2 linked regions of the Homo sapiens genome follow. The protein of the gene in region 1 interacts with the protein of each later gene in a pairwise test. Each region holds a gene or a part of one and is shown in the gene's direction. Other genes may lie near its edges. The genes, in order: TPCN2 and TPCN1.

Region 1 (7,275 bases):
AGGAGAGAGGCGGGCCGGCAAATGTGGGAACCTGCAGTGCCAGACCAGGGTGGAGTGTGGGCCTGGAATAGTGGGGGCCCAGGGGAAGCTGCGATGTGCTTCTGAGTGTTTGGAACGAGATCCTTGGGCTGTTGCAGGGTGAAACGGAGGATGGCCAGACCCAGAATTTTACAAACCAGCAACCAAAAAGCCAGGCGAAAGGGAACCACGAGTGCTGGATGGTTCCAGGGGTGCCCACCACTGTTGGCCTGGGATGGCTGGCCTGGGTGGATGTGAGTACTTTCCGTGGTCCTGGGGCTGGAGTGAGGCCCGGAACTCGGCCGCTTGTCTCTTGTCTAAGAAGCTTGTATCACTAGATCTCTCCTGGTAGAGATTTTGTCTTCTCCCAGGGAATCTGGTAAGGTGGGGCCTCTCAGATCACCGGCCCCCCAGGCTCCCCTCAGGGCTGTTCATTTATTCATGGGATATATCAGCTTTGAGTCCTGTGTGCTTGACTTCTGGGCTCTGCAGATACAGCAGGGAACAAAACAGTGTGGCTTCTGTTCATAGCGATCCCAGGATGTGCTCAGGGGACATAAACAGTAGCCACTTTCAGAGCTTCCCTGGGGAGACATTCGGGTGTCCTCAGGGTGGGTCTCGTGGCTGTGCATGTGGGCACCAAAGCCACAGGGAGGGAAGGCTCTTGCTCCCGGCAGTGCAGCAGGGCCGGGCAGAGTGAGGGTGGGGTCCGGTCTCCTGCCTCTGTCTGGGGCCCCTCACACCTCTAATCCGTCCAGGGCCCAGCTGCCTATACCTCATGCCCCCAAGCAGGAGCCCCGAGGACAGGGGCAGCTGCCTCCCTAAGGATGGCCAGTGGCGTGGGCGGGTCATGGCCTGGAGCTCTGCCTGGGGACCAGCACCTCCTGAGGCCTCTGCTGCTGCCTCCCATGTCACCACATTGTCTTGGTGCAGCTGTGGGCCCCAAGGGGCCAGGTGTGAAAGCCGAGTCTCAACTGAAAAAGCAGCTGCTTCACCCTCTCCCCGTGCTGGGAAGTGTCAGCCTCTCCGGGCTCCTCAGTTGCTTCGGGTTGAGTTTTCCTTCCCTGTTGGCCTGCTGGGGAGCAGCTCTGCAGCGAGGCCAGAGGTGGCCCGTGCCTACGATGCGGGTGGGTGGCCCAGGCTCCCTGCAGTGGCTCAGTGGCTGACCAGGTGCGCCCGCTGGCTGCTCTGTGGCAGGTGAGGGGCTTGTGAGCAGGCCAGGGTGCTGGGTCCTGGCTTCTGTGCCGCCTGACTTTTCCTGAAGGCCCCTCCTAGTCAGGAGCCACTGCCGCTTTTGCCCAGGCCTGCCGGGAGGCTCCACCCTGCTTGTGCTGTTGGTAAAGGCGGGCGGCCACCCTTCACCACAGAAGGCACCGGCAGAGGCTGGGGGACTCGGGCGTTCCTGCAGCTCTGACCCTGGGAGTGATTTGGGTGGGCTTGCCTGGGCCCATGGACCGGGACAGTGAGGGAATGGGACCTTGGTAGCACTCATGAAGCCTCATGGCAGTGCCTTTGGGTTCTAGATGCCAGTTCTCCCTGTCACTGTTGAATCCGAGGTCTGGTTTGATGGGGGTGGGTGGGACACTGGGTACAGTGTCCTGGCTCATGAAGACTGTGCAGGAGCCAGGTAGGGCCGAGCGGAAGAGGGGTGACAGCAGCCCCATGTACCGAGCATGCCTGGGGAGCGTGGCAGGGGGCTCTTGTGCTCCTGCGTTGCACCTCACAGTACCCTCTGGGGAGCCGATTGGGTGGCTGTAAATAGCCCCACTTGACAGAGGAGGAGCCAGCCACAGCCTTCCTGCCAGCACGTGGAGGAGCCGGGCTCTGAACCCCGACGCTGGTGCCAGGGCCCTGCAGGATGTGCCGCTTCCCACAGGCTTGCTAGTTGTGTGCGCTGCATGCGGAGGTGCCGTGCCCTGGGCCTGGCCTGTGCATTTGATGCCGAGGCACTTACCTGGTTTGGTCCCTGCCCTGGGCAGGTACATGCAGCCCCACTGCCGGGTGGAGTCATCTCTTTACAAACGGCCTTGGGAAGAACCACAGCCGGCATCTTTCCTTGATCACGGGTATCCTGGAGGGTGAGGCCATGTCATCCTGCTCGGTCACCTGATGTGTCCCCTCTGCCTGCAGGTGCCGCGGCCAGGTGGGACCTCTGCATTGATCAGGCTGTGGTCTTCATCGAAGATGCTATTCAGGTCGGTGGCACCTGCTCCCTGTGGCCGGGCCTGGGGGGTGGCCGCCCTCCGATTGGCTCGCCCCTCCAGGGGCGACTGACTGGGTCCAAGGCCTCCATTGCTGGACTGTAGGTTAAGAGAACTGAGGGTGGAGCCTCTGGGCACGGCTCTTCGTCAGTCCCCGGAGGACTTGTCTTCTGCATCCTGGACGCATTTGCTGCTTTGATGCACCGTGTTCTGAGGCCTGTTGTGGACCACCCCATTCTAGGTCCCGGGTGGGTGGGGGCATCCTGGAGGATGACACAGCTGCACGGGGCGTGGGAGGGTCAGCCTTGCACAGAGAAGAGAGAGCCTCGCAGGCAGACACGGGCACAGCTGTGCTCTCAGCAAGTGTTCCCTGAGTGTTTGCTCACGCACCCACCCACCCCGGGTGTGTGGCCTGTGAGGTCTTGTGTGTTGGGCAAACCTCGTGGTTTGTGATGGTGTGGGCCTGATGGGTCAGGGCTGGCCATGTCCACACGCTGAAGCGTCCCCTGTGATCCACAGCCTGAGACTTGGGCCTGTCTCGTGTGTGGTGTGGGGCTCGGGTCACGGCCCACCCTGCATGCACCCATGTCATGCCTCATGTGACTTTTCGCTTGTAGTACCGCTCCATCAACCACCGGGTGGATGCCAGCTCGATGTGGCTTTACCGACGGTATTACTCGAACGTATGCCAACGGTGAGAACGCACCCATGTGGAACTCAGGGTTCCTGCCGGCTTGCGTGGCAGGGGAGGCTGGCCCCCACCTGGGGATCACCTGGTCTCAGGGTCCAGGCAGGCTCCCCACTACATAGATAGGGCGGTTACCATCATCCTCTCTGGAAAGGAGACGGCCTGTGATGGCAGGCTCCTTCTACAACAAGGGTTCCTTTCTGGAATGCTGTGGTCAGCCCTCGGCAATGGAGCTTTGAGCAGATTCGTGATCTCCCCAGTCACGAGTGTCCACGCTCAGGCAGCGCCAACTCCCGTGCTTCGGACTGGGGAAGCTCCTGACCAGCCTCTGGGCCCTGAGGGCTGCTGGCTCCTGTGTTTTCATGTTTCTGTCCCCTTTCCAGGACTTTGAGCTTCACCATCTTCTTGATCCTGTTTTTGGCTTTTATCGAGACCCCATCCTCACTCACCAGCACGGCGGACGTGCGCTACCGCGCTGCTCCCTGGGAGCCGCCCTGCGGCCTGACCGAGAGTGTCGAGGTGCTCTGCCTGCTGGTCTTTGCGGCCGACCTCTCTGTGAAGGTGAGGCGGGCGCCAGGCCCTCTACGTGCTGCCCCGGCCTCCCAGCGCCTGGCCGCTGCTCTCCTGGTTTATTGCTGATTCTCTGGAGTGAGCTGCCTTTTCCCCAGACTTTGTACTTTGACCCGGTGAGCAAGGCACACTTTCTTGGACAAGCAAGTGCCTGAGGCAGAGGCTATGTCAGCTCTCCTCCCTCTCCACCATGCAAACTGAGGCCAGTGTGCCGTCAGCTCTCCTCCCTCTCCACCATGCAAACTGAGGCCAGTGTGCCGTCAGCTCTCCTCCCTCTCCACCATGCAAACTGAGGCCAGTGTGCCGTCAGCTCTCCTCCCTCTCCACCATGCAAACTGAGCCCAGTGTGCCGTCAGCTCTCCTCCCTCTCCACCATGCAGACTGAGCCCAGTGGGCCGTCAGGGGTTGCGCAGGCTGACAGGGCCTCTGGGAACAGTCCAGTGTCTGCAGTGCTGCTGTGAGGAGAGGTCCCAAGTGAATAAGTGAGGCCCAGGTGGTCCCTCCTCAAGGCTCACCCTGCCACCCCAAAGAGAAGAGGAGAGGAGGTGGGCGTGGGGCAGAAAGGGGTTTCTTATGCACACAGCAGCTGCTGCATGTTTGACTCTGGGTTCTGCCTGTGACGCACGTCCTCCCACAAGCTGGAGGTGGGCCTTTGGTGCTCACCTAAGCTTCTGAGCCTCGTCAGAGACTTAGTGCCTTTCCAGGGAGGTGCAGGCTACGTTTTCTATTTTTGTCAAACAGTGATTCCAGTGCTGCGGTCTCAGGGGCCCCCACATCCATGCCCATGGTGTTAGATCAGGCCCTGGCTGCAGCCCTCCTCAGCGCCAGCCCTGCCGCTCCTTGGCTGGGCCTTGGGCTCACGTGGCTTCCTGGTCGCGTGGGGCCTCTGCCCGGCACTGCCCTGTAGTCCCTTGTGGGCAGGGCGGGCTGTGTGCCGACCGAGGGTTGTGGCTGGATGCTGGTGTGTGTGATTGCAGGCCCCGGGCAGTTTCTCATTTCTTCCTTTGTAGCTTATCATGTGGTTAGCAGGTCTGGGGGTTTTTCAACTGGAACTGAAACTGGCAAGAGGTTGTCATTAGCGTTTTTTGAATGGTTGGTGTGTTTGAGAAGTGTCAAAAGGTGAGAGAGGGTACATCAGCAAGCTGTGACCTCTGGGGGCTGTCTTTTATTTTATTTTATTTATTTATTTTGAGACACAGTCTCGCTCTGTTGCCCAGGCTGGAGTGCAGTGGTGCAGTCTTGGCTCACTGCAACCTCCGCCTCCTGGGTTTAGGTGATTCTCCTGCCTCAGCCTCCCCAGCAGTTGGAATACAGGCGCGTGCCACCACGCCTGGCTAATTTTTTGTATTTTTAGTAGAGACGGGTTTCACCATGTTAGCCAGTATGGTCTCGATCTCCTGACCTTGTGATCTGCCCGCCTCGGCCTCCCAAAGTGCTGGGATTACAGGTGTGAGCCACTGTGCCCGGCCGTCTTTTATTTATTTATTTATTTTTGAGACAGAGTCTAGCTCTGTCGCCCAGGCTAGGGTGCTGTGGCATGATCTCAGCTCACTGCAACCTTCGCCTCCTGGGTTCAAGTGATTCTCCTGCCTCAGCCTCCCAAGTAGCTGGGATTACAGGTGCCTGCCACCATGCCCGGCTAATTTTTCTATTTTTGGTGGAGACAGGGTTTCACCATGTTGGCAAGGCTGGTCTCAAACTCCCGACCTTGAGTGATCCGCCCACCTCGGCCTCCCAAAGTGCTGGGATTACAGGCGTGAGCCACCGCCTTCTGGGGACTTTCTTGATGGTGGGAAATGGCAGTTAGGTAAGGGAAGAACAGACCAGACCTCACTTCCCAAGCTGCCTTGCTGTGGCGGCGGAGACCTGCCCACTGAGCTGGTATTTTTCTAGCCTTTTCCAGAGTGCATTCCATGTCTTCTCAGCCTGCACAAGGTGGTTGTTAGATAGGCAGAACAGGCAGGAGCCTCCCATTACTGATGAGGACCCCAGGCCAGAGAGCTTTGGTGCTGCCTGAGACTGCACAGCGAGTCCCTAGCAGGCTTGGGCGGGAGCTCGGGCCTCCTGACTGCTGCTCTGCGTCCCGTGGGGACCACACTGTTGTGGAGGCGCACCCTGCTCTGGTCGCCTGGTCCCTGCGCTGCGCACCGTCATTCTCTGGCTGCAGGGCCAGCGTGTGGGGCTACTTGCTGCTCACCCGCCCGTCTATCTTGCAGGGTTACCTGTTCGGGTGGGCCCATTTCCAGAAAAACCTTTGGCTGCTGGGCTACCTCGTGGTGCTGGTGGTGTCTCTGGTGGACTGGACCGTGTCCCTGAGTCTCGTGTGTCATGAGGTAGGTGGTGAGGCAGCCCTGAGACAGATGGAGAGATCTGGGGCTGGTGTGGGTGCAAGGCCCACGGGGGTGCTGGGATGGAGCCCTGAGCCCGCCAGCCATCCTGCCCACCCGCCCAGCACTGCCCACCTCCCATGGCACTTCCTTCACTTGTTGGCTGGGGATCCTTGTTCCTGTCTCACAGATGAAGACATGGAGGCCTGGACGGGCACAGGGTTCCTCCTGGCTCGCCCTGTTTTTGAGGGCGGACCTGGGAGTGAGCTCCAAGACTTCTGCCTCCCGGCTCTCCGCTCTCTAGCTGAAGGCCTCGGCCGTCCAGCCCCGGATGAGAGCGCCACACCAGGGCCTCACCATGCCCCGTAGTCACAAGCCCCAAGCTCTGTGAGGTCTGACAGTGAGAAAGCCCCCTCACCCGGCCACACTCAGCCCTTTCCACCGCAGTGCCTTGGTTTCCCCTCAGAGCACCCAGAAGCACCCCCTGGGCTTTGCGAGAATAGAGCTGGGAGAGGTGGGTGCGGAGTCAGCAGAATCCACTGGGGTCTGTCGGGAAGCAGAGCCCCACAGGTGCCTTGTGGAGAGAATGAACAGAGGGCCTTAAACAGGCTCCGAGAAACCAACAGTGAAAGGAGCCCAGTGGAACCCAGAACCACCGGGAGCAGTCCCACTCATGGGCAGGGGACGGGGGAGAGATGGGGGTTGTTAGCACCTGGAGGCCCAAGGGAGGGGCCCATAGAGCTGGGTTCTTGCCCTCTGTCCTCTGGGAGGGGGTGCTGTCTGGTGGGCGCTGGTGCCTCCCAGAAGCTCAATGAGGTTGGTCCCAGCAGTGCCGATGTGGGGGCTGGAAGCTCCAGGTGCAGCTGATAGGAACAGCCTAGTGAGTGCATCTCCTGTCCCCGCCTGCCCCAGGGCCCTGCTGGCAGGACCTGGTGGGGAGTAGCTGCTGAGGAGAGCTGGAATGGGCGGCATCGCAGCCCACAGCACGGCAGAGCGGAAGGGTGGCTGGAGGGCAGCCCCGCTGTGCTGCTGCGGGGCCTCCGTGGCCACCTCCTTCCTGTCTCCCTGACTCGGCAGCTTCCCGCAGCCTCCTCCCTGCAAAGGGAGAGCCTCTTGCGTGACTGCCCCAGCAAAGGGAGCGAGGATAGCCCTCCCACCGCCATTTCTGAGTTACGGTTGTGGCAGCTGTATCATGTTCTGTAACTTACAGGCTAAATTGTAAGCCACACCAAGAATCCTTATATGAAATTAGGATGGGGAAGGAGACAGGAAAAAGAGACACAGGTCTACGTTACAAGCAAGGAAGAAAATGAATAAAGGCCTGGTTTTATACCTGGCCGTGGGCCCTGCCTGGATCTCTTCTGCCACCTGCTCCGCGCTCCCTTCGCCTCCGCCAGCTCCCCACCTGGCCCGGGTTTTTCACCTGGCACAGGGACTGGACCTTCCTCCCTGAGGGGCCCGAGTCCTTGGT
Region 2 (4,897 bases), on another chromosome or scaffold:
TGGAACTACAGGTGTGCACTGTGACACCCTAATTACCTTATTTTTGTAGCAGTGAGGTCTTGCTGGGGTCTCAAACTCCTGGTCTCAAGCAATTCTTCCACCTTGGCTTCTAATTTAAGAAAAGGCAGGCCAGGCATGGTGGCTCATGCCTGTAATCCCAGCACTTTGGGAGGCCAAGGCAGGCGGATCACTTGATGCCAGGAGCTCGAGACCAGCCTGGCCAACATGGTGAAACCCTGTCTCTACTAAAATTACAAAATTTAGCCAGGCCTGGTTCCGTGCACCTGTAATCCCAGCTACTGAAGAGGCTGAGTCAGGAGAATTACTTGACTCCAGGAGGCAGAGGTTGCAGTGAGCCAAGATCATGCCACTGCACTCCAGCTTGGGTGACAGAGCTAGACTCTGTCTCAAAAAAAAAAAAAAAAGGCAGAATCAGATGTTTTTCTTTTTTTGCATGACCTCCCAATCTTTACATATTGGCAGCTAAGGAAAATATCTCACAAAGCACCGTGTGGGCTGGCATTTGGCACGGTGCCTTCCAGACCATGGGCCACCAGCCCATGAGCCCTGCAGAGTCTTCTCAACCACCTCAGGGTTGCCAGGGCTCCGGGGAGCCTCTCCCACACCAGCTATGGTGGCTTTGCTCTGTTTTCTGGCATTCTAATAGCTTGAAGCCCTTCTGTTTCACTAAAACAGTGACAACCAGGGTCCATGCCTGAAAAGCGGGGGGTGCTGTCCCCAAAGCAGCTTACACATTCTCCGGGAACACAAGAGACTCAGGCAGTGTTCTTTGGGCTGATGTGTAGTGGCTCACTGAACTTGGTGTCACAGAAACATGGAAATAATAGAAGCGTTTGACCTTGGGCAGTCACTCCATGCCTCCCTGTCTGTGCAAGGGGATGACTGTGCAGCAGCACCCATTCAGGTGTGGTTGGAAGGAGGTGTGCTGCCCTTGGCCTCTGCCCTTCTGCCTGTCCATCTGCTCCAGGCCTCAGTTTCCCCCTCTGTAAAACAAGGGGGCCAGAACTAGGCCATCTCGAAGCTCTAAAAGTCTATGGTTCAGTCTTTTAAAAAGTAGGGTAGGGTATGGTGGTGCACACCTGTATTTCCAGCTGCTTGGGAGGCTGAGGCGGGAGGATCATTTGAGCCCAGGAGTGGGAGGCTGCAGTGAGCCGTACCTCGCCACTGCTCTCCAGCCTGTGCCACACAGTGAATCTCTGTCTCCTAAAAAAAAAAAAAAAAAAAAGGAAATGTGGGGTATACTTAATTCCTTAATTACCTGAATACCTCAGTCCCTGAAAATGTCAGAGTTTATAATCATGGCCTTAGGCAGGTGAGGTATTCAGCACAATACAGCTCTAAGCCTCGGTGTCTCGGGTGTGAAACAGGGACACAATTCCTGCCAAGCTCAAAAGGGGTCACTCGGGGGGCCCTTTAGTGAAGGACAAAAGGTTATGCTCACAAACAAGGGGTGAGGGTTGTTCCTGCCTGGGCCTGTTAGAGAGCTGTTATGCGCAAACCTCCAGACACTAGGGAAAGATTTCATTGTCATTTTTGCCTCTGGGGCCACATTCAAAATTCCCAGCATTTCTGGGCCTGTGACGGGGGTTTCAGTACCAGCTGGGTGAGGCTGGCAGCCCTGCCCCTTCCAGCCTGGATGCTGTGGGCTGTGTGACCTTGTGGGGTGGGCGGGGCAGGGGGTGGGGTGCAGCCCTCAGCACCCCTTCTGCTCTCTTCTCCAGGAGTGGTATGAGGAGCATGCCAGGGAGCAAGAGCAGCAGCGACAACTCAGCAGCAGTGCAGCCCCCGCCGCCCAGCAGCCCCCAGGCAGCCGCCAGCGCTCCCAGACCGTTACCTAGCCCAGCGCCCGAAAGCCGTCTCTTCTATGCAATAACACAATAGTATTACTCTACTGCGATGTACGGAACTGCGGTGTGTGTACACATACTCACGTATATGCACATATTTATATACAGGAAGAAAAAAGACAGACAAGATGGGGCTTGGTTTATAACCACCTTGCCCTGTCTTCCTTAACTCCAGAAGCCAGTTTGGTGAGGGGTGGGGGTGCGGCCACCAGGTCTGAGCTCTTCCTACTGTGGAAGGCTCCAGAAGGCCCTTCACAAGGAGACCCCTCACCTGGATCCAGTCGACTGCGGGGCTTGCCCCTCATGTGGGCTGGCCTCCATCGGCCACGTCCAAAGCTGTCACTGCTACTGCTTCAGGCTCACATCCCCCCGACCTGATGGCGTGCCCGCCCCCTCTCCCTGCGGCCCATGCCACAGGTTTCTGTGTTTTGCTTTAGGGACAGAACCACTTAGGAAGGAAAGAACTCCCGGTCTCCAGGGTGGTATTTCAGTGTCTGTGATAATGTCACGCAACACCTCTTCGGGGACCAGTGCCCAGGATCTAATGGAAGCGGAATTGGGGCAACTGGGCCCATGTGGCCAGAGCTCAGTTAGCCAGTGCCGGGCGGCCACAGATTACACTGACCAATCTCCTCCCTTGGCTCTGCAAGCCTCCCACCCAGCCTTCTCTGGCTTAACCCTTGTTGGCGAAAACTCTTCCACAGTGGCCTCCTTGGGGACCCAGAACCCGGAGGAAGGGGCATGAGGCAGGAAGTGGGGCCGATGTCTGCAACCCAGACCACTTCGTGGAATGGGCTCTTGACCAAATCCCTTTTTTTGCGATTTACCCGTTCAAGCAAAACAACGTTTTGGTTAACTAAGGATTGTGCTAAAGCCGATACCAGGTCCTTCACACGTGTGCACTAGGAACAGGAGCGAACAGCACAGAGAGACGCTCCCTGTGGGACGCAGCAGCCCCGTGGCCCCGGCCCAGTTCCCAGCCACCCTCCCTGGCTCTGCTCACACCAGAGATTTCCATAGCAGGAGCGGTTGGTGCAGAAGTAGGTTCAGATGAACCTCAGTTAACGTCGCCACCCCTCCTCCCACCATGGTACCCTGTAGGAGCCCTGTATGACATCTGAGCGTGGTGGAGGTAGGAGGGTTGCCAGCTGCAGTGACCCTGCCACAGAGGCAGGGTCAGTGCAGAGGTCGCTTTGGTTCCGCTTCCCTGGGCCACAGAACGGAACACAGCATAGGTTCTGCAGCAGGAGCCGCAGTGGCAGGATGGAGGGTGCGAAGGGCAAGGAGTGCACTGCTGGGCATTCCTGGCCAGCCCCGGCCCTCTGGTGCCTGCTTCCTGTGACTTCAGAAGGCAGGTGGACAGAGCCTCCCTCTGGCCTTGTCCTCTTCCCAGCCACAGAACGGGCAGGGTGGCACCCGACCCCAGGGGAGCAGTACCTGGTCCCCCACCCCCTCCTCCCAACCACCTCCAAGGCCAAGCTGGGTCCCATAGCCAGCACGGCATGGTTCTCCCCTTCCCCCCTTCCCAGGTCAGGGGAGTTGGACAAGTAGCAGGTGTTTGTTTTTAAAGCACAGCCCTTTGGGAAAGCAACACATTATTGAGACTCACTGTGATTCCCCCGGGAGTCAGACTGGCTTTGTCCTCTTCCTCTCTGGAGGGCCATGGGCCATCAGCAGGAGCTCCACATCGAGCCCCAGGCCAGAACCCCCTCCCTTTCACAGAGAGGGAACTTTATTGCACAATTGGGTGCCTTTTAGCTTTTGTGTGTTGAAATGGGCGTTTTGGAAGCAAGGGTCAGGGGACAGCTTCTAAAGGTGTGAGTCTCTGACCTGAGCATCTGGGCCTCGCCTGGGCCCTTCTTCCTCCCCAGGGGTGGAAACGTGGAGGGGCCAGCAGCACCCCGGGGTCTGCCCAGGGGAGTCAAGGCCCCGAGGTGGGGGGGCCTATTCCAGGAGGAGTGGGATCTCGGCCCTGTCCAGAGCGAGTTAATGTGTCCATCTGCCCAACCCTGTCCTGAGAAAGGACCTGGTTTTGGCCAGGACCTGACAAATACCCAATGGCAGCAGTGTCAACAGACGGGAGTCCAGCCAGGGTGGGTGCCCTTGTCATTGAGGTTAGGGACAGCTATCCCCAGGTTATGCCTGGCCCCACCCAGCAGGGAGTTGGGGTCCCCCCACAGGCTGTGAGCTCTGTGGGCCCTGGGATGTGATCTAGCTCAGATGCCCTCTCATCCTTGATGTCATAGTTGAGTGCACCCAAGTGGCACCCACTGGCGGCCAGGGGCACAGCCTGGTGGTGGTGGCAATAGAACTGTGCCCCTCCTCAGCTCCTCGCTTCCCCTCCCACAGCCCCAGCCTTACTCCACCATGCGGACAATCATTTTGTACGGATCACGGGAGCAATGCTGTACGGTTTTGTACACTGGTGGTTTGTTTCCTAGAAAACCCATTGTGTCTCTGGATTTCTAGCACATTACTAAAAGAGCCTCTGCTTTGTAAACATGGCTGCTGCCTCTTGACTTCTGTGGCTTTGGGTATTGTCGGGAGAGTGGCCCCATCCAAGGCCATGGCCATTCCTGATCCTGCCTCAGCCCCACCCCGAGCTGTGCCCTGGGGTCAGCCACTTGGCACTGGCCCCAGGTGAGGAAGAACTGGTAAAAGTTGGGGGTGTCATTTTCTCTACACTTGAAATTTTGACTTTTTTTTTATTTGGAAAAGAGACAGTTGAATCCCTTTTCTTTACCAGCATAAGGCAGTCAGGCAAACCTAAGAGTTGCTTATTTCGGCAACATAAGGCGGGGTCATTGCATGACAGCAAGAAGGCACGAGGTCCCCTCATCTGTCCTTTCCCAGCTCGCAGGCCTTGGAACCCCGCCCAGGGCCCCGCTGAGGGAGGCACAGGCACAGTCCTACCGACTCCTGCCTGGCAGCTGGAGGAGCCCAGGTTCCAGCACAAAGGAGTCTGTGGACAGGCAGGGGCAGAATCCTGGAGGGAGCGCCTGAGCCACCATCCCATGTGGCAGCTGCTG

What was found.
Region 2: the proteins of TPCN2 (region 1) and TPCN1 interact in binary tests that used the Homo sapiens proteins (3 or more experiments, as listed by UniProt).

What each region holds. Positions count from the first base shown.
Region 1 is NC_000011.10:69,051,885-69,059,159, forward strand, and holds part of TPCN2 (two pore channel protein 2), read left to right. Parts: intron 1-2,148; coding exon 2,149-2,213; intron 2,214-2,836; coding exon 2,837-2,913; intron 2,914-3,290; coding exon 3,291-3,468; intron 3,469-5,693; coding exon 5,694-5,810; intron 5,811-7,275. UniProt on the Homo sapiens protein: Intracellular channel initially characterized as a non-selective Ca(2+)-permeable channel activated by NAADP (nicotinic acid adenine dinucleotide phosphate), it is also a highly-selective Na(+) channel activated directly by PI(3,5)P2 (phosphatidylinositol 3,5-bisphosphate).
Region 2 is NC_000012.12:113,294,218-113,299,114, forward strand, and holds the end of TPCN1 (two pore channel protein 1), read left to right. Parts: intron 1-1,742; coding exon 1,743-1,859; 3' UTR 1,860-4,368; downstream 4,369-4,897. UniProt on the Homo sapiens protein: Intracellular channel initially characterized as a non-selective Ca(2+)-permeable channel activated by NAADP (nicotinic acid adenine dinucleotide phosphate), it is also a voltage-gated highly-selective Na(+) channel activated directly by PI(3,5)P2 (phosphatidylinositol 3,5-bisphosphate) that senses pH changes and confers electrical excitability to organelles.